Linked DNA regions of Homo sapiens: region 2 is linked to region 1. Evidence: fine-mapped expression QTL. A gene starts in region 1. The other region holds a variant in brackets. All regions are shown on one strand. Distances are between the middles of the regions. Region 1 holds the start of TBPL1 (TATA-box binding protein like 1). Region 2 overlaps SLC2A12 (solute carrier family 2 member 12).

Region 1 (2,915 bases):
CGTGGGGCCGGGAGCCGGGGGCTTCCGCGCGGCGTGGCGTGGCGTGGCGTGGCGTGGCGCCCTCAGGGCCGTTACGCGATTTTCGCTCCCGCGGGCAGCGCCTCTCAGGCCACTCCCGAGGGACCCCGAGGACGCACTCGGGCCCCAGGGCGACGGTTCAAACGGGCCATTGTGCGCCCCCGGGGTCCCCCGGCCCCTGCAGGGCTACTTGGGCGCAGAGCCGCGGAGGGTCTCCGTTCCTAGAGGTCCTCCTATCCCGGGCTGCCTGAGTCCTCGCCAGCATCCGCCCTCTCCCACTCCCATCCTTCCTGGATCCGCCTCTCGGTTCCCGAGGGACAGTCCCGACCGCAAACCCACGTAGAGTAAGGAATGTGGGACAGGCGACAGAAGTGGCATACGGTCCTGCGTTATCCCTCCGTCTCGCCACACCTTGTGTCTCCATCTCTCCCCACTTCCTTCCCTCCGTCTGTCATCTGTCATCCCCGGTCGCTCTAAGACCAGGATTCCAATTCGCCTAGTGAGGAATCTCACTAGGGGAATTTATCGCGACATCATAAATTAACGGGTTCATTTTGACTGAAAAAGCGAAGGACTTTTTTCAGGCAGAAAACAAGTCTCGTCTGGACGGTAAGGACTAGCTTTAGCAATTATATAATGGGGGGTGGGGAGGACCTTTTGTATAAATTTAATGAGCTGATGAGAAAGTTCTACGGTTTTGACAAAAAAGTCCACCTAAATATTCGACTGTATGCCAGAAATTACTACACGTTTAGATATCAACTAAAAATATACAAAGGATACACGGTGTTTTCAGAACCCTTTCAAGCGGTTCTTAAACAAAAAAGTCTAGTCCGATGCCCATTAGCGCCGCCCCCATCCCACCTCTTACCTCCCACCGAGCCCAGCGGGTGGGCAGGAGGGGCCTGATTTGGGGACCAGGAAGGAGGAAGGAAGGGTGGGGGCGGGGGACGGGGAAAGTGACGGGAGCAGTGAGAGCCGGAAATGAGTGGCTAGCGAGGCACCCAGGAGCGCCCTGTCCGGCGGCGCTCTAGCCCTCGCGCACTGTCTCTATGCTCCCCAGCGTCTAGTCTATTTATTGTCGCGGGGAAGCTGCGGCCGCCTCGCACCCGGAACAACAAAGCAAGGAAGACGGAGTCCGAGCCTCGGGGGCTCCTAGCAACGGGCCGGGGCGGGAGTTCCATGGAGACTGGGGAGCGCGCCCGTCTCATCCTCATCCTTGTCCTCCAGCTTCTCCTTCGCATCCGACGCAACCGGCAGCAGCGCTGCCGCCGCGTCCTCAGCCACCGCTCCCTCTTCCCACGGTAACCCCCTAGGCGACCCTGGGCACAGGGAGCGCGGGCGGCTGAGCGGCCTGAGCACCGGGTGCGGGGCGTCTGGGCGCGGGGTGGGCATGTGCGGAGCCCGGGCCAGACTTGGGGTGGGATGTGTGGGGGCGGGCGACTGGAGGGCAGCCGCTGAGGTGGGGGAAACCGGTCCGGTGGCCGAGGGAGGGCTCAGTTCTGAAGAGGACCGGGCGATATTTGGGGATCTCTTTAGGGATAACGGGTTGGGGGTGGGGCGTCCGTACCTGGGAGCGTTACCGAGCCTGGTGTAGGATAAGAAAAGAAGGGTTATCTTTCGTTTAAGCCACCACTGGGAAAGACGGGGAAAAGAGATTCCTCATCTGTCTCGGAGCCATCACCCAGGGGAAGAGGGACCGTGCAAAGATGCTAGGGGTCCGTTGCTTCTCAGAAAACTTACAGCGGCTTCTCTAATAGCTCCCAAAAAGCGGCTTCGTCGGTTTCTGATTCTGGCAATGCCGGCAGCCTCGCTTTATTTTATTATTATTTTTGACCAAAATTAGGATTGATGGAGAAGGATCTAGAACTGAAGAAGAGAAAATGAATTGTGGGTAGGGCTAAGCAGGGATGAGAGTCGGGATAAGTGATAAAAATAGCCAATAAAAGCCCTAAAAGTAAATCTAATAGGGCATGAGGGCTTAAAAAGAAAATCTCTCCTGCCGAGATGTGCATCTGCAGGCTCTGTCAATGTGCTCATTGCAATAAGACTCAAACTGCAGTCAATCCACATCTGTGAGCTCTCTGACTGCATCTGTCACCTGCAGTTCCAAAGCGACACTGGCAGTAAGTGCATGAGCTTCTGTATTTAGGGTTTAGAACAGTGCCTTAAAACTGTGACTTAAGAAAAGGGAGCAGGTTTGCGTGTGTGTGTGTAAGCAATGTGGATTCTCTGGGAAAATATAAAAAGAGACATAAGAAGGTTCAGCCATCCTGGCATAATTTCGCAGTCTCTTTGAGAAAATGGCAGTTCCTTCCTATTGAGAAGTGACTGTTAGCACTATCTGGTTGAAAGGATTATTCACAGTTTGGTATGCCCAGTGAAATATCAGTTTATGTTACCTCTTTAGTCTTACATCACAAGCTGCTTAATGGTTTTATACTTTACAAAATCATTTTGGGTGAGTAAATGAGGTTTTCCTGTAGCACAATGAAAAGGCCACATATACATACAAAGTTCTTTATGTAAAGTTGAAGATTAAAGATGAAAATAAAATTGATAAATCATAGGAGCAATTAGGTCAACCACAGCTTCTGTTTGTTCCCCACCCCTTTTGTTAAACCTGACTTCTCCTAAGCAAAAAGGTGTCATCCTTTCCCCAGCCTCCTCTTTACGTACCCTCTGCCCTCAAAATCAGTATCAGAAACTCTAGTGACCTATTACTATGTGCCCTTGATTGGGCTGGCTTGTTCCTGAATGAGGGCTAGCCAGAATATAGCTTCAACTCAGGCGTTTTCATCTTAAGCTTTTAATATGGAATTGAGGTCCAGTGTCTGTTAAAGGAATTTCATTCATGTGTAAAGAAGTGGACAGGATGCAAAGTGTGAACATTGGGA
Region 2 (2,915 bases), 67 kb after region 1:
ACTTGAATATGTGAATACAAAGGTAGCTGAAGGATGACAGTCGCAGCTTTATCACCTAACTTCGTATGTGACCTTGGGAAACATGCCTTCCATCTGCTCAAAGTGAAAACTTATTCATCATGAGATGAAAGAAGAGGTTAATTAATTAATTTATGGGCATATTAATTTTTGGATAAAAAGCCCTAATAATTATTATAAAAAAAACAGTCACATATATTTTCCGGAGTTTCAGTGGCTATTTTAAGGAGGGCTGGGTTTCTACACAAGTGTCACCTCAGATGAACTCATGAAATAATAACATTATGCCTTGGGTTTTGGCTCATCTTGACTTTACTTGTGAAGCATGAATATAAAAATCTTCACGTTGTTCTGTGTCTTCACAATGTCAAGAATCTGTGATTCTACGTTGTGAAAGCTTGAACCATGTTAGAAAAATTCTGTTATTAAAGGGAGCTGAAGTGATGATCAAGAGCACCCCAGAAACAGTGGGGAGTCGAGGTAAGATTTTGAACATATTTGAAGTGAAAGATAAGTTATGGACAACAGAGTGTTTAATAAGTATATATCCTGATTTTGTTTGACATACGGGTTTTAATATTAGCTACAGAAAAATGGAAGGGAGGGGCTCTTAGCCTCTCTGGGGCCATGAACCTCTTCGGTAGGCTGGTGAAGCCTATGGACCCCTTCTTAGAATAATATTTTAAATGCATTCTAGAAGTACATAAGATGTTGGGCGCAATGGCTCATGCCTATAATTCCAGCACTTTGGGAGGCCAAGGCAGGTGGATCACTTGAGGTCAGGTGTTCAAGACCAGCCTGGCCAATATGGTAAAACCCCGTCTCTACTAAAACTACAAAAATTAACCAGGCCTGGTGGTAGTGCACAACTGTAATCCCAGCTACTCAGGAGGCTGAGGCAGGAGAATCGCTTGGACTCAGGAGGCGGAGATTGCAGTGAGCCGAGATCGAGCCACTGCACTCCAGCCTGGGCAACAGAGTGAGATTCCATCTCAAAAAAAAAAAAAAAAAAGTATGTAAGATTACATGAGTACCCCTCCTGGATTCTAAATTCTGGGGCAACCCAATTATTTTACAGTTAGGGGAACAGGGGACCAGAAAGTAAAATGACGTGGGGCATCCACTTTAACCTAAGAATAGAAACACTTTCCTGGCAGAAGAAAATCATGCTGTGATCTAACACAATTAAGGAAT[G/A]TTGTTCTAAGCCAATCCATATTTAAGAAGGTCTAATAAGGATGGTTTAATCTTGCTTTCAATGTTACTTTAGAACAGCAAGTACTTTTCCTTCATACCTCTATTTACACAAAGGATTTATTTGTATTACAAGCAATAAACTCTCTAAATACCTGAGCACTAATCACATCAGCTTAATAAGTTTGGTAATGCATTCAAGATCTGGTATGAAAAGCTTGTTCCTAATAAAAATCTTCTTTAAACTCCAACTAGTTTATATAGTTTATACCAATGCTCTAGAATACAATTGGGGATTGAAATGAAATTACTACAGGATATTTTCTTTAGAAAAGAAAAAGAAACTAAAATGTGAATATGGATGTAAAGGATTGACTCTTAGCAAGAAAAAAAATGGAGAATTATTTGGGTCTCTTTTAAAAACACGAGGAGAATCCATAGCCTCAAGATAAGAATGTGAAATGACTGTTCTCTTTAGATGTGATTTGGATTCCTGCCTCTGACAGCATGACTCCAAGCCTCACGTGTGATTACCCAGGCCAGTCCTTGCACCTGCAGTTGTAAATTGGACAGTCCATGAGATGTAAGAAGTATTTCCTTTTCCTAGATCCAAACTTCCTTCAACCCTGAGATTCTCCAACTCGTTGGCATTGCTTCTGGTCTAAGCAGTTCTCCGAAGCCCCTCTTCTCCATGTTGTAGCAAAAAGCAGAGGATCCAAAAAGCATCCAGAACAACTTTTAGATATTGTGTCCAAAATTCTCGAATAACTATGTATGCCTTAACAAAGAAATGCCTAAATATCTCCCGCTAATTGTTTCTTAACACTACTAAATCTCCTGCATCTTTTCTTACAGCCAAAATCAGAAAGATATTTTTTAAAAATCATGCCCAAGTGATGGATTGTTCTGCAAAAAGCCTCGTGATGGTGTCTGGCAGGAACAGGAGTTTTTTTGGCAGCCTAGTATTTCTAGCTTACTTAGTTCCTAGCCTGCCCACTAGCCAGATCTTTACACAAGTAAAGAAGCCCAATTTGACATTTTTCCTATGTCTGCATCGTATTTTTAAGTCCTTTTCCTTCTTCCTGCTTAAAAACACAAAGGTAAATAAACCAGCATGATTTTTAAACAGACTCATGCTGTGCTCACTTACAGGGACAGAAAGAAAAAATATGAGATGTTTCTTCCTTCAAAATGCTTACAGTCTATAACTACATTCTGGTTAATAAACCAAAATAAACATACAGAAGTAATACCCTATTGCTAAGGACTAAGATGTGTTCTCACATTGTAACTTACATTATATCATACTCTCATACTTTACAGCATCTAAAGCACTCTCATATACATTAGATCATCTGATGTGCACCTGTACTCTAGGAGATAGGACAGATATTACTATGCCCATTACATAGATTAGAAATAGCTCAGAGAAGAAAAATCACGTAAAGGTCACACCACCAGTAAGTAGAAGAGCTGGGATTAGAACAGAGGTTTTCTGATTTTAAATTTATACGTTTGGTAGCCCAGAACTGAATTACTCTAGAAACACACTAGTAGTTCATACAAATAAAGACCTCTAAAAAATGGAGTGGATTCAAAGAGGAGATAAAGCTTTCATTTAACTTCAAAAAGAGGAAGGATCTGGATAGAGCAGAGGCGGAAGGAAGGGGCCACAACAAGTGCTTTGTGTGTATTGACTTGGGTGT

Evidence for each region. PIP is the estimated chance that this variant, and not a neighbour inherited with it, causes the effect.
Region 2: its variant is the best candidate, but not a certain one, in a credible set for the expression of TBPL1 in esophagus muscle (GTEx, PIP 0.86).

The regions. Positions count from the first base shown.
Region 1 is chr6:133,952,104-133,955,018 of GRCh38, forward strand. TBPL1 (TATA-box binding protein like 1) reads left to right here and starts at 1,121. Exons shown (of 7, transcript NM_004865.4): 1 at 1,121-1,322. LOC128092253 (umcharacterized LOC128092253) reads left to right here and starts at 1,201. Exons shown (of 2, transcript NM_001414965.1): 1 at 1,201-1,322. The coding sequence starts at 1,201. RefSeq lists a silencer at 119-228.
Region 2 is chr6:134,019,013-134,021,927 of GRCh38, forward strand. The region is part of intron 2 of SLC2A12 (solute carrier family 2 member 12); the gene reads right to left. Among named protein-coding and RNA genes, the nearest start is that of SLC2A12, 32 kb to the right of the region's middle. The variant G/A (reference allele first, on the strand shown) is at 1,213.